Regions from separate parts of the Homo sapiens genome. Here all the other regions are linked to region 4. Evidence: fine-mapped expression QTL. A gene starts in region 4. Each other region holds a variant in brackets. All regions are shown on one strand. Distances are from middle to middle.

Evidence for each region. PIP is the estimated chance that this variant, and not a neighbour inherited with it, causes the effect. A credible set is the group of variants that fine-mapping cannot tell apart.
Region 1: its variant is the best candidate, but not a certain one, in a credible set for the expression of ZDHHC2 in tibial artery (GTEx, PIP 0.55).
Region 2: its variant is the best candidate, but not a certain one, in a credible set for the expression of ZDHHC2 in blood mononuclear cells (TOPMed, PIP 0.61).
Region 3: its variant is the best candidate, but not a certain one, in a credible set for the expression of ZDHHC2 in lung (TOPMed, PIP 0.77).

What each region holds. Positions count from the first base shown.
Region 1 is chr8:17,220,026-17,228,135 of GRCh38, forward strand. It overlaps ZDHHC2 (zDHHC palmitoyltransferase 2), which reads left to right. Exons shown (of 13, transcript NM_016353.5): 13 at 231-4,774. It overlaps CNOT7 (CCR4-NOT transcription complex subunit 7), which reads right to left. Exons shown (of 7, transcript NM_013354.7): 7 at 4,941-8,110. Among named protein-coding and RNA genes, the nearest start is that of CNOT7, 23 kb to the right of the region's middle. The variant A/G (reference allele first, on the strand shown) is at 3,089.
Region 2 is chr8:17,203,688-17,211,797 of GRCh38, forward strand. ZDHHC2 (zDHHC palmitoyltransferase 2) reads left to right here. Exons shown (of 13, transcript NM_016353.5): 7 at 1,968-2,088; 8 at 4,273-4,405; 9 at 6,245-6,371; 10 at 6,701-6,793. Among named protein-coding and RNA genes, the nearest start is that of CNOT7, 39 kb to the right of the region's middle. The variant T/C (reference allele first, on the strand shown) is at 3,657.
Region 3 is chr8:17,188,432-17,196,541 of GRCh38, forward strand. It overlaps ZDHHC2 (zDHHC palmitoyltransferase 2), which reads left to right. Exons shown (of 13, transcript NM_016353.5): 4 at 7,073-7,193. Among named protein-coding and RNA genes, the nearest start is that of ZDHHC2, 36 kb to the left of the region's middle. The variant T/C (reference allele first, on the strand shown) is at 3,993.
Region 4 is chr8:17,151,810-17,159,919 of GRCh38, forward strand. ZDHHC2 (zDHHC palmitoyltransferase 2) reads left to right here and starts at 4,673. Exons shown (of 13, transcript NM_016353.5): 1 at 4,673-5,044. The coding sequence starts at 4,915. RefSeq lists a silencer at 4,132-5,491.

The DNA.
Region 1 (8,110 bases), 68 kb after region 4:
GTCTGCAATTTTTTTTTTTGCATTTTAATAGGATCCTTTCGTATATGCATATTAAAGTTTGAGCAGTATTGATGTAGAGTTCCATATTCAAGAGCACGTCTACTGAGCCTGCTAGCATAGTAAACAGTTTTGAATGAGGGATATTATTGAAACAGATTATGAAATGAGTTGGTTTGTTTTGCGTGTTTATGGTTAACATAGTAGTTTCATGTTTTCTGTTTCATTTCAAGGTATCAATGCTGTAGATGGATGGAAGAGGCTTCCCACAGGAAGGTGCCACCAGTCAGTTGTGCCTATGTCCCTTTGGCTGGAAATGCAGAATATGAATTGATTAGTTCTCTCCAAGCCATTGCTTAAAATATAACATGTTTTGGATCCAATACACACATTGTTACAACTAACACAAATTCCTATTAAATATTAAAAGTAGTTCTGGTTTATTAATCAACGGGGAAAACATCTTCTCCAAAAAACTTGGAATAAATCCAAGGACCAGTTTTTACCCAAATATATGGGTAGCACAGTTTATCACATAGAAACTCCATTAATCATCTGATTTTCCGAATCTGAAAATTGAGACTATTAAGATATTAGGATTTCAGAGATTTCAAGTCACATTATAATGATAAGCATTATTCATAAAACTTGTTACCTTTAAGAAGGTGGAAGTGGCAAACCATACTTCTTTTTTTTCCTCTGATGTGAATCCAGCCTCAGACTGAGTGAACTGTAATAATTATGAATTCATTACAGAGTCCAGGTGGCCTGCAGTTGAAGATCATCAACCATTTTTGCCTCACTTAATTCCAGCCTTTTGTTTTCTGCTGGAAAATAAGTGTGGACATTGAAGCTTGAGCTCTCAAAGCAGTTGGCTGGAATACTTTTGTCAGAATACGGTACATTTCTATTACATCAGAAATATATTTTCATCTCTTCTTGTTAAATTGGGAGGAAATTTATGATAGCAATTATGAAGATTGTTTTATGACATTCTTTTGTCAGTTTGGCTTTCTAAAAATCTCTTTTTAGATTATTTCTCCTGTTGAACATAGTAAAACTATTGAATTTCTCTTAAGAATTCCTAATAGGTCAATAGATTTACCCTCCAGTGATATCTATATTATTTCTTTCTCGTCTCATCAAAATGATGACAGGTAAACTATATTTTTCCTTAAACACCTATTACAGTTAAATTATGCAAATCATTAAATAAAAATCATACAACTTTTGGAAAGTTAGTTCAACATGAACTAAAATGGCATGCTATTTGGAAATTTAGTTTGAGATAAACTAAAGTGTGTTGATGCCAGAATGTTCAGCTTCAGTAAATATAATAAGCTCTTGTGCCTTGTATGCACTATTTAAAAAAAGTTTTTTTTATTTGAGTCCAGTATAATTCATGTAAATGTTAACAATTAGAATAATACTCTGTATGCTTTTTTGATACTGATTTTGAGAATTTAAAGCAGATTACCTTTTAAAACTGGACCAACTAAGTAATTGGTATTTAATCAAAGAGAAAATGGTAATAAACTTTTCAAAATCTTTGTTAAACCAAACATTCAACACAAAATAAACTAGAAGGCCAGAGGATAATGGAATAAAAGATCATTGCAATTACTTATCCTTCCTAAAAATATAGTTTTATATTAATTGTGCTTATGGAAGAAACAATGTCAGCCAAGTCCATTTTATAGTTTGAGTGCAATTCTTTGAACAATAGAAATATCTGCAGTCTTTCACAGATTTGTATTATGCTGAAGAGTTTCATCTGACAATCTGCTTCAAGAAATCTCAGAAAATATGATAACATTTTAACTTTCATTTTAGAGCACGTTTTGGTCATTTTTAAAAATACCTAAAGTGCCAGACCGGAACCTATAGCTACTGCTAGAAGTCTTAAAAAAACCAACAGCAGCACAGGATGTATTAAGAATTATATGAAGTCAGGTTTGTTTTTTTTTTTTTTTTTTTTTCAAAGCACAGTACTGTTAGCTGTTTTTGTGGACAGGATTCGATTAAGTATTCCCTCTTGTCAAACTGGAAGCTAGGGGAAAAAGAGGGATTTTTATCCTTTACTCTTCTAGAGTACTGTTAATGCCCCTTTCCCACAGTCTTTTATATAATTAAATATATGTCAATACACATTAGAATCAGATTTGAAAAAGTTAAAACAATTTCATTGTTGTAATTGTTCCCTTTCTGTTTTCATATAGTGAATAACCTTTAAAGGGTTGTTTTGTTTTGTTTTGAATTATAGGAGTTATAATCTTTGGAGATGATTGCATATCTCATTAGATATGCAATATAAATTTATCTGAGTGAACAAAGTGCTAAATAAATAGATCTACATTTTGTACATATTTATATAAAATTTACCTTTAAGTATTTACTTTAAAAAATTTAATGGCTTAACTCGAACTTGAAGACACATACTTCAACTGTCCTTATTGTCCATTAAACTGATAATTTTGATTTTTCTTGCTTTTATAGATTTTACTATATAGGAATCAAGATTTAAGAAATTTTGCATTAAAAATAGTGTACCAATGCTTCATATACGTTAGTTATTTGCTATTATGTAGGGAAGAGGATTGTTATTTCAAAGATATATTAAAGAACAGTTGCATCTGAATATAATCATGATGCATTCAATGAAGTTCATATCCATGAATTCACTCCTAATATACCCTAATAAAGTGGTTGATCACCTACATTATCTGTCTATAAGAAACTGCCTTTGCACTGACAATGTAAATTATTTTAAGCATAAATTTTCCTAATAGTTTATTAGAGCTACTAATGGCAAAATTCATGTCTTCAATGTGGCCATAACATAGGTCTTGGGAGGGGTGGTGAGAAAATAAGGTATTTACTTTGTAGTAGTTAAGTGATTCTGAGGACAATTAGAAACAGACTATAAAACTCAACTACACTGTAATCAATAGACAACTATTGGAAATATGGCATATGTTGACAAACACTTAACTAGGGAAATCAAAGATATAAATCATGTTTATAAAAAATTAGGCACGCAATCATGTGATTCATGCTTCAAGAAAATATATGAAAAAAGTGTTACTCCATT[A/G]TGTTATAAACTAGCAGATTTTCCCTATTTTGAAATGCATGTAAACGGGCTCGGCTGATTCTGAAATTGTACTGTATCATTTGGTATTTACTTATATGGTCAAATACTTGTTTGTAAAAGTGATGGTTCTGATACCTTTGATCAAACATAGATACAAACCTCAGAAAATGGTAAATGCAAAGCAGTTTACGTTGTAAATCATGATGGTGTCCTCCAGCACAACCATCCCACCCACACACCTAGACTACAGATTCTGATCTGTGAATATTTTCACCAAAGTGACATTTAAACAAGTGGATTTTTCACAAATAACACGTGTTTAATATCTTTCTGCAGAAACGTGTTCTTCTAAAGCAGAAAACCACGTGGCTTAATCCCAAATGTTTTACACTTCTTTTCCACATACTTAGCCAGTTCAGCACCGATTTCCTCTTATATGTGGAAGGAGACTATGTTACATACCTGAAGTATTACTCTTTTACAAAGATACCATTAGAATTTTCTCACTGTCTTGGTAAAAATTCCTAGATTCTACTTTTTATTGCAAGTGTTAGCAATATGATCTTGTAACGCCATGAAAAGCATTAAGTAGAAGCCAACATTAACCTAGATTTTACAACTGAGCAATCTGTTCCCCACCAGATTTCCTTTAGAATTTATTACCAAAGGATCTTATTTTGTTACAGAACACAGGAAATTGTTAAACCTTATAATGTTGCAAACCATGCATTTTCCTTTTCTCTTTTCCATAAGATTTTTTTATTGTAGTAGTGCCCTGGCTTGTAAACAGTGGACATCACTGAAAGGATGAAATCAAGTAGGCTTGTTTCAAAGAGACTCCTGTGAATCAACTATGAATATGAAGTATCTCCCAGAACAATGTTGAGTGTTTCAGGAGACTCTGAAACAGGGCACCCATTTTTTTTTTCCTTCCTCAAAATAGTCTCCTTGAAATGTGAGCAAAGAACTATGATGATGCAGTCCAGGTATCTAATAGCTCAATCACCAACACCGCTGAGAATTGTTCTTATACCAGCAAAAAGTTCAAATACAATAACCTGGGCAATGCCAACAGAAGACACTTTTAATCATTTGCAGACCTTTCTTGTTGCAGGAAAGTGAGGGCAAAAACAAACTGGTGAAAAATGTTCAAAAATAGATCTTTTTGATGTTCATAGCCAGTATTCAGTATTTCTGTATTGTTTACAATTGGGGGAAAATGTCTGTTAAGGCTAATCATCTGAGTGATTTGAGTAGCAATTAAACCAAAGGGAAACTTTTAATAAGTTATTTTAAGCCCTGGTTTATGGCTAGTTCCCTTTTGCTCAGGAAAAATAGTACTACTTTATGGTTTATGAAAACCTATGATTTATGTTGCATCTTCCGGGGAAGGTTTAACAGTACAAGGAGCTGAATCCTACCTGAAATTATTAATGCTTAATATATTGCTTCTGTTTGATTGATAAAGGTGCTTAATCAATTGAAAAAAAAACGCATAATGCTTCAAGGTAAAATTCCGTTGATTCTGAATTTAAAAAGATACTACAGAATGCGTCAGTTCTCCTGTTGTATTTTTCTCAGTTATGAGAGCAAGGCTATTTTGTCAGTTTAGATTTTGTGTCTTTTTCTGTCAGTATGTATGGCTCCCTAATTGAAAACATCTTAAATGAACTAATCAAACACTTATTGTGTGAAAGCTGAATACTTTAAAAAGCAACCTTAATTATAAACTCATCTTGGAGTAGCATGCAAATGTGCTAAAGTTATTTAAAAAACATATACTTAGGCAAGAAGTAGAGGACAGCCCCAGAATGGCTACAATGAATGGAAGGAAAGTCTGTATACACACATATAGCTCAAGAACAAGTTTTTATTATGCATGGGTTTCGCAGTGATACAAGACACCTGCTCACAACTTACAGTATTAATTTTTTAGAAAAACAAAACAGGTATATGGCATGAGTGAAACAGTTCCCCATTAAAAGCACTTAAAACCTATGACATGGCTAGTAAGATGTAAAATATTAAGTCCCCTTGGGGTCTTGCAAACTTGTATTTCCTAACAATTTGGAAGCCATGATGATAGTCTGAAGCTAAAGGAACTCCAATTTCTTGGTATGATACTAAATAAAGATTCTTATCTTTTGGGAGAAAGAGCCAAAACAGAAGGGTGTGAAAGCAGTGAATTTCCCCTCCTATGACAATAAAGCAAGAGGGCAGATTATATTCATGAATGCTTCTCATATACAAAAAATTCCTCCATACCAGGAAGGAGAGTATTGACCAGTTTATCTTTAAAAAGAAAATGAGTAATTCTGGAGAAATGTAGCTTGTTCATTCACCTACAGACTATGGCTACAAAGCAATGAAATGGACTTCTAAAGAGAAATTGCTCAATTGCTTTTATACTAAACGTTAAATGTAACTAATGCTGTAGAAAACTGTTTAAAACAAATGGAAATTGTCTAGTGATAATGTACATGAATCTTGTTTTCTTGGAATTTTCATTCTATGGTGACATTTTTTTAACTTTCAAAACCTGAAATGAAAATTCTGCAGGATTTGGATGTGTACAGTCCTACGTTTCTATAATGTCTTAATAGAAAAATAAATGACAGGTAACGTTGTTATAAAAGAAACTCTCATATAAATTACACCAACATAGCAAATGGCATGTGTGAACTGGCCTTCACTACAAAGCACCGACACACAGAATAATCAGCATTTTTCCTATCCCTTTATTTATAAATTCTAACACATTTATTTTATAGACATGAGATAACATATGCATTCATAATTTGATTCCACCTCAGGTTGCCTACCCAGAGGAGCCACTGCATTTGGCAATGCAGATGAAATAGCAAACAGGACAGACATAGACCCTTGAGTTTCTTCTAGTAGAGAGGTGGACAAGCCTTTTTTTTTTTTTTTTTTTTTTTTTTGAAAAGGGCAGGTAGCAAATATTAGAGGCTTTGCAAGCTAAGACAAAATGAAGGACATTATTTAGGTACTCAAGGAAACTTTTCACCAAATTTTTATTCTAAAAATTGAAAACTCAAAATATTGAGTACAATTTTTTTTTCTTTTTTTAGTAATAGAGTTCTACTAATGGGAATAATGGGATTTTTTGGCAGGGGACGGGAGGTAACATTTTGCTCAATTTGGGCTGAAAGTTGGTATCCCCTCATTGGAATAAATAGAAAATGTTAATCTGTTAATGCTGATGTGTAATGGGATTTCACGTATTTCATCTTTGAAAATGTCTTTTCACACAAACAGGTCAAGGTACTGCTAAATACTGACACATCCACCCATGAGCATGTGATTTTAGTTAAGCATATTCATCACTTGTAAGGCATTTGTAGGATTCATCTTTTTGGTATTTGCCCTTTAGCATGTCATTCATTCAAGATGATTCATTTCCAACAGAAGATTAAGAGGAAACTTTAAAAGCATTTAATTGCAGTTAAATGCTTTTAAAATTTAAAAATTTTCTTTGCACTGCATCAAGGTCCAAAAAACTGCTACAGGAAAATATATCCACTAAAAATGGATTTGGCAATACAGCGCTGTTTTGACTTCTCATAGCACAGAAAGTATATAAAGCAGCTTGACAATCTTAAGTTTTAGTTTTTATTGAAATGAATTTACCATATTATGTTGTTGTACCTTGTAATTTCAGGTCAAATTCATTAAGAAACATTTTCAAGTCTGTGGCAAAAGTTAATTTCCAAAGTTACTCAGTGTTAAAAAACAGTGGTTGAGGATGGTTTTTCTCATTCAGAAAAATTTCAATGTCAGCCCAGAGCCCAAAAAAATAAAAATAAATCTTTAGCACTGCTAAGCCATTGAACGCCTGTGTGGCAAATCAAATCAGGATATTCAGCTTCTGTTTCTCACAAAAAAAAAAAAATCATGGAACTGAAGATGGTTAAGTCCACAAGAGCAAATGAAGTTAACTGTTGACCAGTTCAGTAACACCAATATTTCCTGTGAAGTACCTGCTGATGAATAATCAAGTGAGTAACTACAGGCTTTAAACAACTTACGTTTTCACAAGCCTTAAAATTTGACCAAATAAACTTTTTTTCTGCTTCATGCATTTTTCCCAGCATCGGTTGCATCACATCTTAGTAGATTCCACTTCAGGTTGTACTGTTTATCAACTTTTTTGAAAATATTCCCACTTGTAGTTCCATACAAATTCTTCGATCACTTCAAATCCAGCAATGGTTTCTCAAAAAATAAAGCTAGGCAGTACTGACTAGTAAGAGGCAAAGAATTAACAGTGTCATTTGATGTTGTGTCCAAAATCCTCATTCTTCAAACTACTGTTCTCATCAAAGGGCTGATGTCTTAATTTTCTCTGGACACATGTCTTTGGGTTGGTTACTATCTTCAAGCACGATGTAATTCAGCATTAGTAAATGGTTTTCTTTGCTTGGCTAACAAATAGGCTACTTGTAAACATTTTGGTTGCAGCCTCATTTTTATTACTTTTGTGAAATTTTGCTGTGATGTTTCATTTAAATTTTCTAATTCTTCTGACTGTTGCTTTCCCACCAGTTGGGAATATTGTGATGTTAGTCTGATACTGTCAGTCTATTCTTTTACCAGTTATGGTGACACTGCATTATAAACACAATGTACCAGCATATAATAAAATAGTCCATATTCCAATGTGCCTTGAAAGTGTAACATTCAAAGGTACTTTTCTTGTTCTGAGATACAGGGCATGAACTGGTAGCAGAAAAAGTAATAAATCTAGCAATACACAGGGCATTCCAAATGCTTTCAGGTAATATCTGCATCACCATGATTCTGTAGCTTGCCAAGCGGCAATGTGAAACAAGACACACATACACAGGTTCTGTAGCAGCTACTCAACTTTCCCATTATAGCAAAAAAGTATCCATAGATAATATGTAAATTAGTGTGGCTGCATTCCAATAAAAACTTATAGACACTAAAATTTGAATTTCATGTAATTTTCAGATGTCAGGAAATAATCTTTTGATTATT
Region 2 (8,110 bases), 52 kb after region 4:
TTCAAACACCATAAAAGGCAACCTCAGCAACAGGCTTGCATCCCCCCACTGGAACCTCTAGAGATGCAGATGTAACTGTTTCCATACAATGTGCACGCACAATTTGTGGCTTCTTTTTTTTCTTTTTTTTTTTTTTTTTGAGAGGAAGTCTCCCTTTGTTGCCAGGCTGGAGTGCAGTGGCGCAATCTCAGCTCACTGCACCCTCCACCTCCCGGATTCAAGCGATTGTCCTGCCTCGGCCTCCCGAGTATCTGGGACTACAGGCGTGTACTACCACGCCCAGCTAATTTTTGTATTTTTAGTAGAGACAGGGTTTCACCATGTTGGCCAGGATGGCCTTGATCTCTTGACCTTGTGGTCTGCCTGCCTCGGCCACCCAAAGTGCTGGGATTACAGGTGTGAGCCACCACGCCCAGCCAACTTGTGGCTTCTTTATAAATTATTTGCCCATATGTAAGACCTTTAAGTTTACAAATTACTAAATCTAATGCTATTCCCTTTACCTTATATTTTTTGAGGGAGATGATGTAAACATTTTTTTCACATGAACATGGTTTCATTTTTACAAATCTAGAAAGAAAAGTGTTTCATCTTAGTAGCTAAGTCAATGGAGAGTGAGATGATTTTTACCTACGTTAGAAGGGGAACAAGAACGTTTGAGAAAAGGAAACAATATGTGTATGTTCTGTGCAATAGGCTGAATACTAGAAAAGGAAACCTGTATGTTCTATTTAATAGGTTCGTTATACCGGTTAACCAAGAAGTTACTCAACCCATGAAGGTATTAGCCAATTCCACATGGGTGATGTATCACATTGACACAAGGTCATCCAGTAGTGCCCTTGTCTTTATGAAAAGGAAATCAAAAACTTTGATAGAAAGAGAGTGAGCCTATAAGCCTATGAGTGGGAGCTAAATGATGAGAACACATGGACACAGAGGAGGGAACAACACACACTGGGGCCTTTTGGAGGGAGGAGGGTGGGAGGAGGAAGAAGGCTAAGCAAAACAACTAATGGATACTAGGCTTAATACCTGGGTGATGAAATAATCTATACAACAGACCCCCACAACTCACGTTTACCTGTCTAACAAACCTGCACTTGTATCCCAAAAATTAAAGTAAAATAAAATATAAATAAATAATTTTTTAAAAAAGAAAAATCTTAACAAAAAGAAAGTGAGCCTATAAAAATGAATTGTATTTGTACTTAGGTTTATTGATACAATAGTTTGATTTGTCCCCCCTCAGATAACGACTTTGGAGTGAGAACTGAGATTTATAAATTTCCATATTTGGAATTATAGCATATTTAGAGCCGACTTTTGGAAATGACCTCAGAGTGTTTTACTTACAGATAAAGAAAATGAAATTCTAATCGATGATTTCACTTCCTCAGGGCCACATCATTACTTAGTGTCAAATGGGCCTTCTGACCCAGCTGTCTAACTGCCAGGCCTACTTCTTTTCTTAAAGCTCCCATTTAATATGCTTTGACAGTCCGCTTGCTTCAATGAAGGCATGCAAAGAGTAATTTGTGAAGATATTCCATCTAATTTGGGAATACTTGAAAAATTGTAACTTAATTAATCATAGTTGGATATCAAACCCAAAGATGGCGTAGAGGAAGGGTTTAGTAAATTCACCTAAGCTGCCTGGCCTGATACGGTTTCTCGCAGGCTCTGTGCTTTGAGGGATGTGCATACTTGCGTAATTTGAGATGACATGCAGTTACATTGTTTGTGATTGACTAAAGCAATATTAAATATCATGTTTTAAAAATAGAAGCAGATTTTTTAGTGAAATGGATTTTTACATGATTGTATGCATAAAGAAATCTTATGAGTTATATTTAAAGAAATGCCAATAAATTAGAAGTGAGAGGAAGCTAAACACTTGCTTGAGCATATGCACATGTAGGTTGAAGATGTAAAACTCACTGGAAATGTTTTTGTTTTGTTAACAGGGTGAACAATTGTGTTGGATTTTCAAATTATAAGTTCTTTCTCCTTTTCTTGGCTTATTCTCTGCTCTACTGCCTTTTTATTGCGGCAACAGATTTACAGTATTTTATCAAATTTTGGACAGTAAGTCATTAACTTGGTAACTCTTTTTTTGGTATACAATAATAGATAATATAGGCTTTTCAGAACAGAATTATTTCCGACACTGACTTTATAGACCAGAGCTCATTGACATGCAGTCAGTCCTCATTATTCGCAGATTCTTTATTTGTTAATTCAGTAAGATGTAATTGTAACCCCCACATCGATACTGACAGCTTTCGTCATCTGCAGACATGTGCAGAGTGGCAAAAACATTGAGTTGCCCCCATGCCCATTCCCAGTTGAGGTTGAACAAGACGATGCTTTTGCCTTCTTGCTTCAGCTCTCATACTATAAACAAGTGTGCTTTCCACAGTCTATTTAGTGCCATGCTTTTTTCCATTTTTGTGCTTTTTGTTGGTGATTTTGCTGTCAAAAAATCTTAAAGTGTAGTGCTGAAGTGTGGTCTAATGTTTCTAAACAAAAGAGAACCGATGTGTGTTATGGAGAAAATAGGTGTATTAGATAAGCTTGATTCAGGCATGAGTTATAGTACTGTTAGCTATGAGTTCTATATTAATAAATCAATAATGTATATTAAATAAGGTGCGTTTAAGTAGAAACACACATAAAACAAGGTTACACACTGATCAGTTGTCAAAGATGTTGTGACCAGAGGTTCATAGAAACCTAACCCTGTATCTTCCCTAGGAGCAGTTTTTCAGTGTTCACAAGTTCAGTGTTTGTGGAAAGTTTATAAAAAATAAGTACTGCAAATAACGAGAATTGATGACTATATAAGATTTTTTTCAGGATTTAAAAATAGAAGTATTTTCTTTATGTGTAAGAAGATTATTTTTTAAACTATCATGCCTATAATGTCCTTATGCCTATAATATCCTGAATTTTTATTCGGTATTTCTTGATTATGCTTTATACACTATATATTTTAAATGTAGGCAAAAAGAAATTAAAATTGAGGATTTAAGATATCCACAGGTCCTCCTTGTGAACACCAAATGACAGTAAAAAAGCAATTTATCTGCTGCCAGGATTGATGTATTATTTTCATTAAATTATCTTTATTATGGTAAGAATTTCTAAATTGCTAGATCACTTATGTGAGATTTGAACCAAATTTAATACCAAAGAGTTATTGAATGCCTACTGTGTGCCAATTCTATTGCTAAGCATAGAAAGACATGAGTGAAGAGACCTGCTGCTAACATTCAAGGATTCTTTCAGTGTCCAGCTTGAAAAATGAACCGTAATGAATGTCTGGGAGAGCATTACCTCACTGCTCCTCCTTCCTGTGGATGATTTTAGTTTCAAACCACAAACATATATGAAAAGGAATGACCAGAATTTTCGCTGTCAAAAAAACCTGCTGCTGTTGAAAACTGTCAGTGAGGTCTTGTGACCGGTGTCATTTGGTCAGGGACGACAGGGTATTGGAATCTCAGGACCATTTATCAGAAGAGACACCTCGTGGCAGCCATGGTGCTTCGATAGGTGTCCATAGCCCCAAGCCCTCCATTCTAGAGCCATTCCAGGTCTCTTTGGATTTATAAACAATGAGAGAATGAGAGTCTAACTGGTTTTCTTTGAGA[T/C]GGACTGTTTCAGCCCATGGATATTAACATTTATTTTAGACAGGTGTTATGCACTGGTGTTGATCTTTTCTGTGGTGCTATTATTTAAGATAGCTTGAAGCATTATTGTGAATGTGTTGTTATATGTATTCATTTAGTTGATGCTGTTGTTTGTAGTAACATAAAACATCAATAAGGATAGTAGCCAAATTGTGCCAGTTAGCCTTCATTTTCTGGCATTATAATGAAACTATTTAAACGTTTGTGATTCTGTAGTATGTTAACAAAACATACTCCGTTAATAAATTTAAAACTACATTTTATAGTTCCATTTATCTTGCTTCGTATTACAGTTTATACATATACTACCATAAATTTTCTATGATTTGGTTATGAAAAACACAGTTTATATTCCAAATTTTAATATCATTTTCATATATATTCATATTCTCGTAAACTTTTAACCTGATGAAATATATGCATATTTTTCCTAAAGTTTTAACATAAAGCCACATTTTTTTATATTAAATTTAAGAAAAATTTTAAGCAAAAAAAAAAATCTTACTAATTTACTTATAAAAGTAGGGGAATACATATCCCTTTGACAAAACATGTTATTTTCTTCCTTTCTTTATAGAATGGCCTACCTGATACTCAAGCCAAGTTCCATATTATGTTTTTATTCTTTGCTGCAGCTATGTTTTCTGTCAGCTTGTCTTCTCTGTTTGGCTATCATTGTTGGCTAGTCAGCAAAAATAAATCTACATTAGGTGAGTATCCAATTATTGTAGTTGACAGAACTTTAAATACGTATACCAACATTCATTGACAGTTGCTATGTGATTAAATGCCAACTTGCCCTGAAGTGGTGGGAAAAGTCATTCTTATTTTCCTCATTGTTTTTTTGATATGTCGCTTAGACACATACAGGTTTGCTCATTCCATATATTTATTGATTGTCTCATATATATGTATATATATATGAGACTATATATATATCTATATATAGATATATAGATATAGTGGCATATAGATATATAGATATAGTGGTGAGCAGGGGCAAAACAGTCTAATGAGGGGCACTAGGAATATTTTAGAAACACTCCATGTGGCTGAAGCATAGAAAGCTAAAGATTGAGAAATACATTAATGAGGTTGGAGAGGTAAGCAAGGACTAAGCTATGTAGAGTTTCTAGCTCAAGGATAGGAGTTTGGGAATGCAACCAGGACCACACATGCTGATGATCATAAAGGACACTCCAAGCTGTGAGCTTCAGTTATTATAATATGCAATGAGGATTAATTACAGTGGGTAGTCAATTAGTGTTCATTTTCAGTATTTTGAAATGAAACATTATGGAATTCTCAAATGAAATCATTACACCAAATACTATTAGGGTGAAAATACTGATAAAGTAATTTCTAAGCCCAGGAATTTTATTTCAAATTATGTGTTAGGCAGTTAAATTGTAATTCATCAAAAGCAAATTTATTGTTTCTAGAGGTTTTTAACTTCTGGAAACCTCTAGATTTAACTTGTAGCACTGAAAGGACTTCCCCTGGATAATATGATCCTTTGAAATGTTTTAGAAAAAGCTATGTATCCTAGGATGAAGAATGCTAAGGATCTTGCAAATGACCACATTTTTTCATAGTGCCTAACTCTGCTGGTTAGATTTTTCTTTTTAATGGAGAAAAATCATTATACCTCCATGTTCATATTCCAAAAACAACATTTTACATTTTGTATTTCAGCATGATTCAAGAAGAAAATGTAGTATTTTTGAAGGAATGTTGATGACCTTATTCAAGTCTCAGTCTGTCGTGTGTTTGTTGTGTGACCTTAGGCAAGTCCCAGAGCCTCTCTGAACCAGCTTCGATAGGCAGAATGAGCATCACCAGATGCAATACATGGTTCTGGACTGGATCCCGGTTTGGACAAACTAGTTTAAAAGTAGATTTTATAGTCAGCTGGAAAAATTTTATTAGATGAGAACCAATTTCAACGAAATTGGAAAATACTTAGCCAGGCATGGTGGCATGACACCTGTTGCTCCAGGAGGGTGAGGCAGAAGAATTGCTTGAGCCTGGGAATTCGAGGCTACAGTGAGCTATGATCATACCACTGTACTCCACTCTGGGCAACAGAGTGAAACCCTGACTCAAAAATAAACAAATGGATTTACTTAAAAACAAAGGTTGTAGAATGTATGTAAAAGATAGTCTGATTGTGGTTTTCTTAAAAAATACACGTGTAGATTTGTAGATCTATGTTTATGGATCCATCCATTTATCTATCTATTGATCAAAAGATCCAGAAGATGCAGTTTTAGTTTATTTGCTAGTTTGTATTTTCTGATTTTCTACAATGCACATGTACTATTATAATAAAAAGGCATATTTTAAAATTAAAATAGGTATATCTTATGATATTTTAAAACAGAATGGACACCCTATATTTCAGGGCTGTTGACAGGCACATAAGCCCTCACAGTCAGCTAGCCATTGATTTTCAGAGTTTCTTCATTTACTTCAATTATTGATAAATATTCAGGATTGCTAGTAAATATGTTCTTTACTCATGTGATTCCTTTACCATCTTTTTTTAGAGGCATTCAGAAGTCCAGTATTTCGACATGGAACAGATAAGAATGGATTCAGCTTGGGTTTCAGTAAAAACATGCGACAAGTTTTTGGTGATGAGAAGAAGTACTGGTTGCTACCCATTTTTTCAAGGTACTTCTTTGTTAAAATTTTCAGGCTTTAAACTAATGAAAATAATACAGCAAAAGATAGTTTCAGGAAAAGCCTCTAGTTCCATAGGCTTGTAATTCTGTGTAGGAACTCTTATTTTTAAAAAATATTATTCTATGATTCACCATAATATCAGTGTGGAAGTCAGTTAATTCATCATCTTCCTGAACACTATGTTGAGCTCAATGTCTAATACACATTTTTTTTGCCTAGAGTATAGCATGTTCTGCTCTCGGACATCAGCATTTTGGCAGGGTTTCACTCCGTTGTCTTTTGTATGGTTCAGTTCTAAATTTTTATTTTAATTCTAGTCTAGGTGATGGCTGCTCCTTTCCAACTTGCCTTGTTAACCAGGATCCTGAACAAGCATCTACTCCTGCAGGGCTGAATTCCACAGCTAAAAAGTAATCTCATATTTTTTTTCATTTTACTTTCAAATAAGATATTTTACCATATTGTGTCTTTTGGTTATATGTTCCTTTGAAAAAAAATGAAGACCATAAGAAAATTTACTGCAATGGTTTCCACTTGAAATGAGGGAAAAAAGAAAGTATGATTGAGGATACATTGGAAGCTTCAATTATACTTGTAAAATGGTGTTATTAATCTAAGTGTGAGTAAAAAGGTGTTAATTGTCTATACATTTTGGTTGACTGAAATATTTTTTAAATGTAGTGCTTAAAAGAAAAAAAAATGTAAGTCAAAATTAGCTACCCACTGCTCAGGTAGGCAGACAGGGTAAAATCGCCCCTGACCCACCATATCTTTCCTTTCTGTGATAACTGTTAGAGTAAAGAAACTTGAGGCTTTTGGAGATCAAATGGACCCCCAGACACCTTCTTGACAACTCCATTTTAATGTATATTATGGACTTAGTGCCCTTGGAAGACCTCTAAGGATTATCTGAGCCATTTCTGTGGAGAGAGAAGCCAGAGTCTTAGAAATTCATTGTCTGGAGACTTTTGCTCCAGCTTTAAGTTTGTTTTGATTCCAGACTATCAAGAATTTGAGGCTGGCCAGAGAAAGACCTGACATTTCATTCTGAACGTGCTACCAACTGGCAAAAGGAAAAGTTACTTAAACTTTTAAAATGCTATGTATGAATTTTCAGTGGTTTGAAACACCAGTTTTTATACCTTTGTGACAGATTTGAGTATAACCATTCCTCTGATTTTTCAATGAAAGCCAGTAGCAAAAGCATAACCATAATATCATTCTTCATTAAACGTTAGAGCTTTTCTTAGTTGCTGCAGTGCCACATACACAGTATCCACACCAACACTCCATATTGAACATTTCTTACTGATCACAGGACTTTTTCCTAGGGAGCCTGGAGTGACCCCATAAACCTCAAGGCAGTGTTCCTGGTAGCCATTCTAAAGTTCTTTTTGTTGTTGTTGTTTGTTTGTTTGTTTGTTTCCATTTTAGTTTTGAGACAGGGTCTCTCTTGTCACCCAGGCTGGAGTGCAGTGGAGTGATCATGGCTCACTGCAGCCATGACCGCCCAGGATCAAGCGATCCTCCTGCCTCTGCCCTTTTAAATTGGGAATTAAATGTAAAAGGAATTTATATTTAAAATCCTTTTAAATTGTCAAAAGAGATGAAAGGTATTTGTCACCCCATCCCTAGAGTGAGCTATGTACAGGCCAGACCCTACCAGTTAGTGAATGGGCCCAGTGTATATATTTCACAGGGACATTCATGGGCATCAGAGTTTTTTA
Region 3 (8,110 bases), 37 kb after region 4:
CACATAGTTTCCTGTATACAACATGGCATTATTTCCTTTCCAAAATATTCTTACCCCTTTCTCATGGAAATAATATATTTATTTTCCATTCATACTGGCAGCTCCTTCTTGGCCTCCTTTGCTGGTTCCTCTTCAGCTCCTAGACTGCCAAAGCATTGGAATGTTCCAGAGCTTAATCCCTGGACTTCTCTTCTTATATACCTGCATTTATTCCCTCGTGGATTTCATTGAGTTCTGTGACTTTATGTGTCACCCCAGTGCCGCAGCTCTCAGATTAATATATTAGCCTGGTGCTTGCTAATAAACGCCTGACACATTTCCAGCTCCCTATTTGACATCTAATAGAAATTTCAGGTTCAACACAACTGAAAACAAACTTCTGATTTCTCATTTAATTCCCCAGTTCTTCTAGTCCTAAAGTTTTCTTATGTCAGTAATGACAGTTTCACTCTTCTGTTCAGGCCAGAAACATTGGTGTCATCCTTGGCTACTCTTTTTCTCTCGGACGCCACATCTAGTCAATCAGAAAATTCTATACCCTCACCCTCAGAGTATGGCCACAATGTGAACTCATGTGCCGCACTGCTCCCTGCTCCCACCCCGGTCCAAGCCACCATCCTCTCTCATTTATAGATTTGCAGTAGCCTCTTAACAGGTTTCTTTTTGTTGGGTTTTTTTTTTTGGTGTTTTGTTATGTTTTTTTTTTTTTTTTTTTGGCCTCCTCTTGTGTATTTTCAACACAGTAGCCAAAGTGATCCTTTCAAAAGACAAGGCAAATCTCTCACCTTTTTGATGTCTTTATACAAATGGTACCTTATCATTGAGGCTGTCTGTGATGACTCAACATAGAATAGCAACCCCACTACCCTCGGCTTTCCCTGCACCTTACCTTCCTGGATTTTTCTCCATAACATTTACCATCATGGCAACACACTGCATATTTATTTGTTGAATACTTTTGAAAATACACCATCGTTAGAATGTAGGTTCCATAAGGGCGTGAAATGTATCTTTGTTCACTGCTTCATCACCAGTGCCTAAAGCAGTGTCTGACCTATAGAAGGTACTCAAGAGATACTTTTTAAGTGACTAAAAGTAGGGAAGAAGTTATTCATACACATGCAGGTTTATTTTTATGGCCTTGGCAGGAAGTTGAAGTGACTTCTAACTTCTCTCTAAAATTATATATGACATCATTGGCTAACAGTGAAGACCTAAGTGGGTTAATTAAGGGTTGGGAGAGTAGAGAAGGTTTGAAATAGTGGATTGGACAGAGTGGCAAAAGGATATGAAACACACGGAAGAAAGAACACAGCATTGAAGGAGCAGTCAAATCGATGACAGTGACATTATAACGGTATCAGGCTTCATTGTGTGATTTTTCTACAAAAGACGTACCTTAGTCATACAACTGTTTGAGATAGATACTATTTTTTACTATTTTACAGATGGAGCCACTGGCTTTGAACATGAAACAATTAAGGTATCTAGTGCTACTGTGTGGGAGAGCTAAGGTTCAACCAAAAGTCCTTTCAACCCTTAAGGACACTTTCTTTTCACTACACCATGCTCTAGTATGGAGAGCAAGCACAATGGGTGGGAGTGCCCAGGACTTCAATTGAAGCATGGGGGAAAAATAGCAAAAATTTTTTTACGTATTATTCATTTAATATTTTTATTTTTTAAAGTTTTGTATATGAGGTACATAAGCTATTAGCTGATAAAATATATACCAATACACTTGAACCTGGGAGGCGGAGGTTGCAGTGAGCCGAGATCGCACCACTGCACTCCAGCCTGGGCGACAGATCGACACTCCGTCTCAAAAAAAAAAAAGAAAAGAAAAGAATATATACCAATAAATACTCATCTGTTAGCAGTGTGATCTCACGTAATTTTTTACGGTTAGGGGAACATGATCAAAAGAGTTTGGAGACCACTGTTAGGAAGAAAGAGCCCTTGTCTGGTGGTTAAGAACCTTAGAATATTCCCTTTATAAAACGCAAGGTCTTGGGCTATTCTTTTAATTGATCAGCTGTTAGAGACCTCTCGCTTGTAAAATGAGGATCCTGAACTGAAAACATGTGAATTAAAATTTGCCCTTTTCATAGCAAGATTGTTAAAGTGATAATAGTTTTTCATTGGTAAGATTTTCTCAATATAAAAGTAATACAACCGCACTAAATTATATTTTGAAAATGAAGACTAGGCAAAAAGAAAAAAGAGAAAAATCCGTTACACCAATTCAAGCACTTTACATTCTGAATTTCTTTGTAGTTAAAAAAAACTTGTGAGTACCTAATAGATATATATATTTATGGGGTACCTGAGGTATTTTGATACAGGCATGCAATGTGTAATAATCACATCAGCGTAAATTGGGTATCAGTTACCACAAGCATTTGTATTTTGTGTTACAAAAAATCCTATTATACTCTTAGTTATTTTAAAATGTACAATTAAATTATTATTGATTGTAGCCGCCCTATTGTGCTGTCAAATACTAGGTCTTATTCATTCTTTTTTTTTTTTTTTTTTTTTTTTTTTTGAGATGGAGTTTCGCTCTGTCACCCAGGCTGGAGTGCAATGGCATAATCTTGGCTCACTGCAACCTCTGCCTTCTGGTTTCAAGGGATTCTCCTGCCTCAGCCTCCCAAGTAGCTGGGATTACAAGTGCCTGCCACCACGCCCGGCTATTTTTTGTGGTTTTAGTAGAGATGAAGTTTCACCATGTTGGCCAGGCTGGTCTCAAACTCCTGACCTCGTGATCCGCCCACCTCAGCCTCCCAAACTGCTGGGATTACAGGCATGAGCCATGGCACCTGGCCCAAATTTTTGTATTTTTAATAGAGATGGGGTTTCGCCATGTTGGCCAGGCTGGTATCAAACTCCTGACCTCAAGTGATCCACTCGCCTTGGCCTCCCAAAGTGCTGGGATTACAGGCATAAGCCACTGCGCCCAGCCTTATTCATTCTTTCTAACTTTTTTGGTTTTGTTACCGTTAACTTTCCCCACTTATGTCCAAGTTTCCTACTACCCTTCCCAGCCTCTGGTTGCCATCCTTTTATTCTCTATCTCTATGAGTTTAGTTGTTTTAATTTTTAGCTCCCACAAGTAAGTGAGAGCATGCAAAGTTTGTCTTTCTCTGCCTTGCTTATTTTACTTAACATAATGACCTCGAGTTCCATTCATGTTGTTGCAAATGATGGGATCTCATTCTTTGTTTTGTGGCTGAATATATTCCATTGTGTAAGTAAACACCACATTTTCATTATCCATTCATCCATTGATGGACACTGAGTTTCCTTTCAAATCTTGGCTATTGTGAGTAGTGCTGCAATAAACATGGGAGTGCAGATTATCTCTTTAACATACTTGTTTCCTTTCTTTTGGGTATATACTCACAGTAGAATTGCTGGGTCATATGGTAGCTCTATTTTTAGTTTTTTGAGAAACCCATCGTAGTAGTACTAATTTACATTCTCACCAACAGTATACAAGGGTTCCCTTTTCTCCACCATCTCACCAGCATTTGTTATTGCCTTTATTTTACTTTATTGGTATTTTTTGAGGTAAGGTCTTGCTCTGTTGGCCAGGCTGGTGTGCAGTGCTGCAATCACAGCTCACTGCAGCTTTGACTTCCTGGGTTCGAGCAATAGTCCCACCTCAGCCCCCTAAGTAGCTGTGACTACAGGCATGCATCACCACGCCTATCTAATTTTTTTTAATTTTTTGTAGAGATGAGATTTCACTATGTTGCCTAGGCTGGCCTCAGACTCCTGGGCTCGAATGGTCCTCCCGCTTTGGCCTCCCAAAGTGCTGGGATTATAAGCATGAGCCACTGCACCTGCCCTTTGCCTATCTTTAGGATAAAAGCTATTTGAACTGGGGTACGATGATAACTCATTGTAGTTTTGATTTGCATTTCTCTGATGACCATGGATGTTGAGCACATCTTCATATACCTGTTTGCCCTTTGTGTGTCGTCTTT[T/C]GAGAAATGTCTATTCAGATCTTTTGCTCATTTTTAAATTGGATTATTAGATTTTTTTCCTATAGAGTTGTTCGAGCTCCTTATACATTCTGGATATTAATCCTTTATCAAATGGGGAGTTGCCAAATACTTTCTCCCATTCTGTGGGTTGTGTCTTCTCTTGGTTGATTGTTTCCTTTGCTGTGCAAAAGCCTTTTAACTTGATGTGATCCCATTTGTCCACTTTTGCTTTGGTTGCCTGTGCTTGTGAGGTATGATTCAAGAAATCCTTGCCTACACCAATGCTTTGGAGAGTTTCCCCAACGTTTTCTTTTACTGGTTTCATAATTTGAGGTCTTAGATTTAAGTCTTTAATCCATTTTGATTTTTGCGTATGGCAAGAGATATGTGTCTCATTTCATTCTTCTGCATATGGATATCTAGTTTCCCCAGCAGCACTTACTGAAGAGACTGCCCTTTCCCCAGTGTATGTTCTTGGCATCTGTGTTGAAAATGAGTTTACTGTAGATGTAAGGATTTGTTTCTGGGCTCTCTGTTCTTTTCCATTGGTCTATGTATGCCAGTACCATGCTATTTTGGTTACTGTGTACGAATGCTAGTCTTACGCCAGTACCGTGCTATTTAGGTTACTCCCCTACACTAAACTCTGTAGTATAATTTGAAGTCAGGTAATGTGAGTCTTCCAGTTTTGTTCTTTTTACTCAGGATAGTTTTGGCTATTCTGGGTCTTTTGTGATTCCATATACATTTTAGTATTTGTCCTCCTTGGGAAGGCTTTCCAGGTTAGGTGTTGTGATCTAAGCTGCATCTGCATTAGGAGATACCCCAATCCCAGTAATACTGTGGTTCTTACAGACTGGTAGATGTGTACTGCCTTGGTGGTCTTGGATAAGATTTGGAAGAATTCTCTGGATTACCAGGCAGCGACTCTTGTTCTTCTGCCTTATATTCTTCTAAACAAACAGAGCCTCTCTCTCTCTCTGCTGAGCTGCCGGGAGCTGGTGGAGGGGTGACATGGCACCTCTGTGGCCAACACCACTGGGACTGTGCTCAGTCAGACCCGAAGTCAGGATAGCATTGGGTCTCGCCCAAGGCCCATTATGTCCACTGCCTGCCTCCCCCATCTGCGTTTGCTCAAGGCTGAAGGGCTCTGCAGTCAGTAGGTAGCAAAGTCAGCCAGGCTTGGGTCCTTCCCTTCAGGGTAGAGAGTTTGCTCCGGCCCTGGCCGGGTTCAGAGATGCCATCACAGATCCAAAGACTGCAGTCAAAAACCTTTTAGTGTTTTTTGGTATTCAGAGTGTACCTGTTCCCATTTTTTAAATGTAATAGTCCATCAGTGGCTTATTAGCATTTTTTTTATTATACTTTAAGTTCTGGGGTACATGTCCAGAACGTGGAGGTTTGTTACATAGGTATACACGTGCCATGGTGATTTGCTGCACCCATCAACCCCATCATCTACATTAGGTATTTATCCTAGTGCTGTCCCTCCCCTAGATCCCCACCCCACGACAGGCCCTGGTGTGTGATGTTCCTTCCTGTGTCCATGTGTTCTCACTGTTCCACTCCCACTTATGAGTGAGAACGTGCAGTGTTTGGTTTTCTGTTCTTGTATTAGTTTGCTGAGAATGATGGTTTCCAGCTTCATCCACGTCCCTGCAAAGGACATGAACTCATCCTTTTTTATGGCTTCATAGTATTCCGTGGTATGTATGTGCCACATGTTCTTTATCCAGTCTATCATTGATGGGCATTTGGGTTGGTTCCAAGCCTTCGCTATTGTGAACAGTGCCGCAATAAACATATGTGTGCCTCTGTCTTTATAGTAGATTCTTTCACTGACATATCACTTTTAAAGTTTTTTAAATTGTAAAATATTTTATACATATTTTTGTATATATACAAAATATATAAATATATAAATATATATATATACAAAATATATAAGAACGTATATATAATGCACTACTTAAAGAATAATTAAGTGAAAACACCTAAGCAGCCACCGAGCCAGTATGTCAAACATTGTTCATATTTTCCATCTCTGCTGTGCATCTCCCAGCTGTTTCCCTTTATTCCTCAAAACTTAACAACTATCCTGCGTTTCTGTTATTCTTTCTTCTTTATAATTTTATCACATGTGCATGTATCTCTCAACAACAGTGTATATGTTGTTTAGCTTGCTGGTTTTAAAATTATATGAATGAATCATTGTATATATGTTCTATAAGATTGTTTTATGTTGTTCAGTATACTGAGGTTCTTTCCTTTGCTATACACAGCTATAGTTTATTAATTGTTAAATGCCGGTACTATTCCATTATTTGGATATATCATACTCCAATTTATCCATCATCCTTTTGATGTACATTTGAGTTGTGTTCTTTTTTTTGTATTTCAAACAATGATACTGAGATTTTTCTTGTACATGTCTCCTGGCGCACATTTATAGAAATTTATACAGGTGTATGTGTGTCTGTGTGGAAGATATGTATTTATATACATATTATTAAACAGAAGCCCAAATTTTCTTTTTCTCAAATATTTTAAAATTAGCTGGGCAAAATTGTCAGTATAAGAAGTAAAATAAATAATTAGACCCTTTAGAAGTGCTGGGGGAGATTTTATGTAAGGATTATCCCTAAGTTAAAACTCACTTAGGTAAGAAGATATGCTTAATGGATTTTCTACATTTGTTCTTAATGATCTAAATGAAAAATTTATTCATTGAGTTATGTTTATTCATTGGGCCATCTTATCTATCAATGTAACTCATATTTTGTTGGAACTCTACGGTTTATAAGCATTTTTATGTACTCTGTTCCTTTTGAGTTACACAAAAACCAGAGGAAGTAGGTACAGTTGTATTATGATGATGATTATTATACCCTTTTTCTAGATGCATAAATGAATGACCTGTGAGGTGAACAGACTTGCCCACGTTTCAAACTCTATTGTCTCTTTGAATGTACAATATACCATTAATATTTTATAAATACCCTTTTCCGGGTATGGTAGAGAAGACCAATATGTTATAATTTCTTTGAAAATACTGATTAAGATTTAAATGTATTCCACAGTTCCATCTCTCTTATGCAGAGAAAGATTTGTTGGAGAGAGAGCCAAGAGGAGAAGCCCATCAGGAAGTTCTTAGGCGAGCAGCCAAGGATCTTCCCATCTATACCAGGACCATGTCTGGAGGTAAATGTTGATAATGAGTGCTTTGCAATGGTATGCAAATAACATCATTAAGGTGACTGTAAGAAAGTGTGTTTATGTACTTGAAATGGTAAAACACTCATTTCAGAATGCTGTGTTATTTCTTGGATTGCTGTTAAATCTTTCCTGTGTGATTCCATAAAACAGAATGGAAACACGAATAGCACTGTGGCACAGAGATCGCAAGGAAATCAGAACTGACTTTAATCCTGTTCTGCCTACTTAGTTATGACTCAGTGAAGATGTGGGAACTGCTGAAATCTTGATTTATGGTAGTACTCATGTTTAAGGTTTTAATTGTAGACTTTCCTATTTATATTTAATTTAAGGCAGCAGTATCTGTAATGAATATAAAATGAATACTTTTACATGTATTTTTTCGTAAACTTAGAACAGTCATATAGGTGATGTAAAATTTCATTTAGGTATTGGTATAATTTTTTATCTATCTTTAAAATTTTCTTACAAATGCAATAAATTAACAAATCTCTTACTTGGGACATATTTTAAGGTAATTTGACAACTATCCACTTAAACAGTTGTCTTAAAACTGATGTATATGGACTAGTGATGCTTACCCACCAAGACTTGCCCAGAGCTTCTGTGACTTCAGACCTGTGCTGTCCATTATGGTAGCCGCTAGCCCCATGTGGCTGTTGAGCGCTTGAAGTATGGCCAGTTCAAACTGACATGTGCTCTAAGTATTAAATACACACTGGTTTCAAAGACTTAGTATGAAAAATATATATAAAATATCTCATTAATGAACAGACACAGTGGCTTGTGCCTATAATCCCAGCAACTCGGGAGCCTGAGGTGGAGGATTGCTTGAGCCCAGGAGTTAGAAGTTGCAGTGAGCTGTGGTTGCACCACTGCACTGCCGCCTGGGTGACAGAGTG
Region 4 (8,110 bases):
TATAGCTGTGTCAGTCCACTGGAAGGACATGTCTGCTCACCTTTTGGGTTCATAGACAGTGCCCCTCCCCATTTAGGGGCAAAGAAGGGAAACAGTGTAAGCAAAAATATTATTTCAATGAAAATTTCCTATTTTATTTCCAAAGAGATTGACCTTAGTGCGAATTCTAAAGAAGTGCACGCAGAATCAGAACGATTTACTATATAGAAAAATGCTTTAAGTCTTTTAAATTTTTTGAATAGGGTTGTCGTTTTTATTAATCGTTAGCCATTAAATTATAATATAAAAACTGTATAATTATAACATAACTTTTTGTTTTGAGAAGGAGTTTTGCTCTTGTTGCCCAGGCTGGAGTGCATTGGCGTGATCTTGGCTCACTGCAGCCTCCACCTCCCAGGTTCAAGCAGTTCTCCTGCCTCAGCCTTCCAAGTAGCTGAGATTACAGGCACCCGCCACCACGCCCAGCTAATTTTTTGTATTTTTAGTAGAGATGGGGTTTCGCCATGTTGGCCAGGCAGCTCTCAAACTCCTGACCTCAGGTGATCTGCCCGCCTTGGCCTCCCAAAGTGCTGGGATTACAGGCGTAAGCCACCGCGCCTGGCCAATTATAACATAATTATAATTAGTTACAATGATATATAATTGTTCATGAAGTTATAATTCATATTTATAATTGCCTTGCTTAAGCTAACAGTTGATAACTATTGAAATCTATGGAGAAAAGGTGAAGACTGCTGCACTGCTTGGTGTGTGCCTGCCATCTAGTGGCAGGACACATTAATGCTACCGTGAAAGCCCTAGTGTGCCTGAAAGGCAGGTTTGCCAGGGACAGTTTGCTCCACTTTACATTGTCCCAGTGTTTCGACCCAATCAACTGTATACAGAGACATCCTTAGGCTTTTGAAATTATCTCCCATTTTATTCAATATAATTACAGCTGAATTGCAAACATAAATCTCTGACAGCCAAAACATATCTAAGCATTACTTCATTCCTACATTCCCTAAGCGCGATTCCTTTTCTTTTATTTTATGTATCTCCAGAAACAAAAAGTGGTTTAGGCATGCTATTCTTCTCCCACAGAGAATGTTTTGACCGCTATTATAAACATGCACATTGACACTGGAGTCACTGATGTCATGGACTGCTGCCTTCTAAAGAGCTCTTCTCCCCCAAAAGAGTGATAAGATTAAGTTTGAGAAAATAATGAAAGAGAATCTATCAGTATTCATGCAGACCACTCTAGTAAGGATGGGAGAGCCATTAGTAAATAAGATATAGATCCAGACCTCAGCTTCATTGCTTCCAATCCTTGTAAGATTTAGAACTCCTTGTATTTGTGAAGTATCATACCCTCTTAGCAAACTCAAGACAATCAACGTCTCATATACATGAGACTAATACGACTGACCTCATATCTTGTTGCAATGTTGCCCTCTAAGAACCCTTCCAAAAGGAAGGAGTAAATATCAAGCAAGTGTCCTAATAGTTTCTGGTAGGTGTTTTGGCTGAAAAGCTTGAGATGAGGTTGGCATAGGCAACATTAAGGGGGATCTGTGTTCTCTAGCAGCAGGTGCGTCCACGCCTTCCTGGGTTTGGCTAGCATGCTATGTTTGATTCATACTATGCAAGGGACTATGTTAAAATGGTAATCTGGATCTGCAGGCAGAAGGAAGATTAGCAGTATTAATCATGAAAGTACGGCAGACTTGAGGTTTGGGAACTCAAGAATTTGGGGGACTGGGCTGGAGGGAGAGGAGGAACGTTTAAGGTTCCTGGGCTGGGCACGGTGGCTCACACCTGTAATTCCAACACTTCCGGAGACCGAGGCGGGCGGATCACCAGGTCAGGAGTTTGAGACCAGTTCGGCCAACATACTGAAACCCTGTCTCTACTACAAATACAAAAAATTGGCCGGGCACGGTGGCGGGCACCTGTAATCCCAGCTACTCGGGAAGCTGAGGCAGGAGAATCGCTTGAACCCGGGAGGCGGAGGTTGCAGTGAGCCGAGATGGCGGCATTGCACTCCAGCCCAGGCAACAGTGCGAAATTCTGTCCGCCCCCCCCCCCCAAAAAAAGAGAGATTCCTTCATGGGGCAGGAACTGAAAATAAGAGTTGTGAAAATTTGAGAGGTGAATGATGTTGCTAGACCGCTGAGTGCAAGGAGCATACAGGCAGAGGCCTAGCGAGGATGGAGTCATGGTCATTAGGGACTGGATGAACCCAGCAAGGGGGCTTTTCTCCCGTTCTCAGTCACTCCCCTCACCCCCCTCCTTGCCTGGCTGTCCGCTCGTCTCTTCTCTTCCTTAGCGTCGCCTTCTTCCTCCTTTGCTGTGGCTGGCTTTCTTTTTCATAAGTGGTCATATCAGTTTAATCACAGTTATACATGAAACCTACAATTTCTTATGCTTATTGAACATTTAAATTAAAATTCGTGAGTTGAATCTTCTGTATTTCTAAACAGTAAGTCTCTAGTGAAGTTTCTTCTTGTCTATGACCTTCAAATTATTTTTTCTGTTTATGTAGTCCTAAAGAAAAAGAAAATAAATCAAAGGCTCTCTATACCTCAAAATAAAAGCTCTCCTTCCACTCTCATCAAAGACTAGTATCTAGAGATTGGCTACTCACCAAAGAGCTTACATTTGTGCGTGCTGCTTATGCCTAATTAGAGACTACGCAGAGATCAATCCTGTTATCTTGTGGCTGTGGAGATGCTTCTTCCTAATCCAGACTTTTTCTGTATTTAAGATAAGAGAACTTGAAAAACCCAGTAATAGTAGTATCCTTAAAATGGCAATAACAAAAAAAAGTTGAAAATATTTCACAAATATTTATTATAAATAGGAACAATTAAACAACATCTTAGATGAGTAATAAAAATGTAGCTCCTTCAAAGATATGACACCTGCATACTTTTCCAAAAGGGTAGATGATGTGAAAACTGGGCAGAATGCTATTCCATTTCCGATTTCAAGACCCTGTAGGACTGTGAGAGGAGGAAGAGCACAGGGCATCGTCGCATCCAGGATCTACAGAGGCACTATTTGCACTTTCTCCACCGTTTCCAGTATGGAAAATCCGATTCCTTCCTTTTCATACCTTGATGGTCTCTATTGACCTTCAGTCACTGATTTGCTTCTCTTTGTGAGGGTATTTCAGTCCCAGGAGGAAGTTTTAATTCCTGTTTTTTACTCTCTTCTGATTGGGGGGGAACACAGGATTAATATTCATGGAAAACATTAAGGAATCCAGAGAAGTTTTATTTTTACATTAATATACAGAATATCCACAGAGAATATAAAAGGCTACAGCAAAATCAAGTGATTCACTGGGACATAATATGTCTCTCTTTTCAATTATTTAAAGTCCCACAGAAACTTGACTGACATTTTCTATGCATTTTTGAAGAGAAATGGAAAGAGATGTGGGGTGGGGGGCTGTAACATAGTAGCTATTTCGGGAGAGATTAGCTTGTTGTGTAATCCAGTCACAGAAAGATAATCGCAGACACCAGAGCTAAATTTCTTTGACTGAATTCATGTAAATCAGTATTTTTTTTTTACTTCTACACATGAATAAGAAGTAATTTCATTCACTGTGGTTGCTGTGTGGTGTAAATACACATATTCACTAATGTTAAGAAAAATTGTGCCTATTATGTATAGTAGTGATGCACATAATTTACACACACTCATTGATTGAAATGTTTCCCTGTGGATCAGGTGCGTTCATAATCAGATGAAGGAAAAGCAAAGGAGGCATTTGTTTATTTTCCATTTCGTGAATCATAAAATCAGAGGTTTGGGCTGACTACCTTTAGGTTCCCTTACGGTGTTTTTTGGGAACCGCTTTGGAGTCAGCTATCTGCTAAGTTTGGAATTGCCACCACGAAAGTAAACACCGTAGTGAGGAGCGGGTTGAGGAAAAGAATAAATAGTTGGTGGAAGGAACCACCGTACTTGAGGGAGGGGACAGTGGGAACGGCCCCTGTCACAATCATTTATCCAAAGCATCAACATTCTCAGAGCAAAGAACTTGTGTTTCTAACTCCAGAGGTGCCTGGATTCACAGCCAAAAATGCTTCTTCCTCGCTCTCCACAGCCCCTCCCATGCCAGACGCCGGCTCGGCACCCCCTCTTCGCTGTGCATTTCTGCTTCCCCCGAAAGCCCGAGTAGTAAAGGGAGGCTCCTTGCGGCCCCCGCGGGCTCCCAGGGACCCGCAAGTTGAAGCGCGAGGGTTCCACGCGGGCTGCGGGGACGCGGGCCTCGGTGCTGCAGACTTTCTCAGGGCGCCTGGGTCGCGGCAGGCGCGGAGTCCCGAGCGCAGCAGCTGCTCCGCCGGCCTCGCCTCCGACCCCCGCCCTGCGCCAAGCGCGGAAGCGCTCGCGACCTAACTGCCCCGGGTGCCGGGCGCCTAGGGAGGGGCCGCCACCGCCCGCTCCGCCCCGGGGGCCTGCGCCCAGCAGCCCCCGCCTCCCCGGAATCCAGAGGCCGAGCCGGAGGCGGCGGGGCCACGGTGGGAGCCCGCGAGGTGGCCCGAGCGAGGGCCCCGCATCCCCGCAGAGCCCGCCCGAGGGCGCAGCCTGCCACGCCAGGGGAGGCGGCCGGGCGGCGGGGAACGGCGGGGGCGGAGCGCAGCCTCCCGACGCCGCCGCCTCACCGCCCCCCTCCGCCTCCTCGGCCTCCGCTCGCAGCCGCCGCCTCCGCCTCCGCCGGGCTGAGGAGCCGGGAGTCCGCCGCGCCGGCTCGGGGCTGCGGGATGGGGAGTTAGCGCCACGGCGGCGGCAGTGGCCGCAGCGCACCCCGCCGCCGCCCAGGAGCCCGTCCAGCCAGGGGTGCCGGGCCCGCCCAGCCCGCCCCGGAGCCAGGCCCGCGGGCGGCGGCGGAGCTGGGCAGGTGGATGCGGCTGGAAGATGGCGCCCTCGGGCCCGGGCAGCAGCGCCAGGCGGCGGTGCCGGCGGGTGCTGTACTGGATCCCGGTGGTGTTCATCACCCTCCTGCTCGGCTGGTCCTACTACGCCTACGCCATCCAGCTGTGCATAGGTGAGTGCGCCCCCCGCCGCGGCGCCCCCAGCGCAGCGCAGCCCACCCCGACTGTCCCGGGACGCTCAGCCGCTCCTCCGCTCTCGCCCCCCGGATGCGCCCCGGGCGCTGCCAACCTGCCGCGTCCCGCCGGCTCCGCCGCTAAAAGCAGCCTCGGGGCAGCTTCTTCCACGCGCACGCCCCTCGCCCTCCCCTCCCAACTCTCGGGTTAAGGTGGCGCCTCCGCCCCGCACTCGCCGCCGAGCCTCCCGCCGCCTTCCGCTCACCGCCGCCGCCTCGGCCACACCCCCTAGAGGGGCGGAAGGTCCCCGGGACCGCTGTGGAGAGGGGAGGCCGAGGCCGGCGAGGCGCGCCGGGGGCTGAAGGGCTGAGCTGGGCCCGGCCCCGAGCTGCGCCAGACCCGCGCGGGGGTGCTGGCCTTGGCGGCGGAGCTGGATCCCTTGCTGGTTGGCGTCAATGCACTTGTTAAAAATTTGTGACAGCGCTCAGGGGCGTTTTTGCTGCCTTTATGATTTGAGGATTGCCAGTTGGACACTTTTCTAGTTTAAAAGGATGTGGAGGAGGTGAGCTACTAGAAAGTATTTTTGAGGACATGTGCAACACACTAAACCATAATTTAGGTGTTTGAACAGTAGGGAGAGAAAAAAAGAGGTGATCGTCTGAGGTTTTTACATCCAGAGAGCGAAGTGGCTCCAGTCCGAGTTCGAGGTTCCTGAATTGGTGGGTAGGATACTTTTAATGCTGAAGATTAAAATTTTTTAAAAAGTTGATTATTATGCACAAGTAGGGAGTACAATGATGTCGCTTAATGTAAGCTGGTTTCTACCTTCAGGGGTTTTATGAAAACTGATCTGGGTTATCAGAAAAAGATGTTAAAACAGAAAATGACCTTTCTGCCAGTGACTTGTGAATGCTTTCTGTGTTTGGTGCTCCACCTAACAAAGTGTCTGTTTTTGCCCTACCAAGTGCTAGCTTTGGGTGGGACGAGGGAAAAGATGAAATAGTGGCCTATTATATTGAGCCTTCACAAGCTCAGCATTTTCAAAGCCTCAAGATTCAGACATAAAATCTTGTCTGAAGCCATCTTACCTCAAAATGTTGCGCCTTGTGAGAAAGTGTCATAATAATACATCAAAATAATCACTGATGTAAGTTGTAAGAGAACCGAGACTTTTATTTCATATAGTTTTAAAATTTGCTGTTATTACTTGAAGGGATTTAGAAACAAGCTTAATAGTCCAAAAAAAAAACCTTGAGTCTGTTGTTGGGAAAAGATGAGGCTGTACAGGCATTATCATGAGGATGCATTTAGGTATGCAGTCGTCAAGTCATCTAAAATATATAGGAAAGGACGTGTAGTAAATTTTGTATTAACTGTTAATCTTAAAATAGCTTGCCTTATTGAGATAGACTGTATATGTTACGTAACTGTTGGGAACCTTTGTTGTGTTTCATTCCTTCGTCCTCTTAAAAACAGTGACCAGTATCGATTAATATAACCTGCAAAGAAGGGACATCCTAGAAGGCCTTCATTATCAAAATAGCCTATTCTCCTGTATTATCACATTAAGCTAAGACGCTTATCTTGGTACAGTGTCTCCTGTCCATTAAGAGGAAGCATTTGAAGGCAGAGAGAGCTCTTCTGCCCGTTAGAAGGATGTCTGCTCCTAGCTGAGGTGCTATATGGCAGATCTTATTATTGTATTGGGTAGACAGGTGATGGGGAAGGAACTAAATGGAAAATTGGTATTATATCTGAATCGTATGTTTATATGTACTTTCTGTAAGTTTAAGACAAATCTAGAGTATCCATAAAATCCGCATCAGTATTTTAGTAAGTGACGATTTGACTAAGAGGAAGAATGCCTCTTTTTAAACTGCCTAAGTGGCGTGGCCTGTTATTGATACCTTATCTATCACTTCTTGTCCCTGCCTGCCTGGCGCAATGCCTGTCTGCCTGGCGTAATGCCTGTCTGCCTGGCCTGGCGCAATGCCTGCCACATTGAAAACAACAGTAAGTGGTCTTGAATAAACAAATAAATGATTCAGAGGCACTATCTCCTAGGTTTTCAGAAAGTAGCTTTTATATTTTTATTGCTGTAGAAACAAAAAGTAATTGTTATGAAAGATCTAGATTCTAGAGTCTAAGAAGGAAGAACAAGTTGAAGCTGAATTTGATTCTAGAGACCATGGCAGTTTATGAGTGGCAAGCTTTGCATAGCCTTGGTCGAGTGGGAAGTTGAAATTTCCTTATAGGCACTGGGAAAGATGGCGACTAGTGTGACTGACACACAAAACCAGACTCCCAGACTCCTTTCCTTTTCACAGACAAAGCAAATGGAAATACCAGCCCCCACCCTACCCCCAGTATTAATCACATCTCAGACTGCCCTGCCCTTTGAAGATTCTTTTTCTCTTGGAAGTTGCCATTTACAAGCAGATTTTCCAAATTTCTTCCATAAAACATTGGCCAAGGTTGGGACCAGAGTGTGGGGGTCGAGGGCTGGGAACTGGATCAGGTAGCAAATGGAATAGAAGAAACAAGGTGATTTACCCTGGTCCTCCTTCCACATCTGCTCTCAGCTAGGGATGACCCTGAATATAAATTATTCTGTGCCCTTTGCTGAATGAACTGCAATTTAGGAGTAGTGCTTATCCTGGTATCCTTGGAAACTGGAGATAATGATTCTCATTACAGTTAGTTTCTATATTTAACAACGTGGATGTATGTGGCTCTCTAGGCACTTTTTCAGTTAGCATAATTTTTGCTTAGTGTTTGTATTTTATAAAAATAACCTCTCTTTTTGGAATATGTGTATATGTAAAATATATGGGATGTACATATATTGTGTGAGAGTCAAGTATTTTTGGTTAAGTCAGCTTCCTATTCTGCCAAAGAAAAGATCACAAAAGACAGTTATACTTCTAATCATTTGGACCACGTTTATCTCGTTTGTTGATTAACGAGGCTCTTCTATTTGTATTCCTCCCCCTCCATCCTTTCCTTCTCTTACCACTCCTTTTCCCTCTCCCCTGTCCCTCCTGTCCCTCTCTCCACTCCTGGCT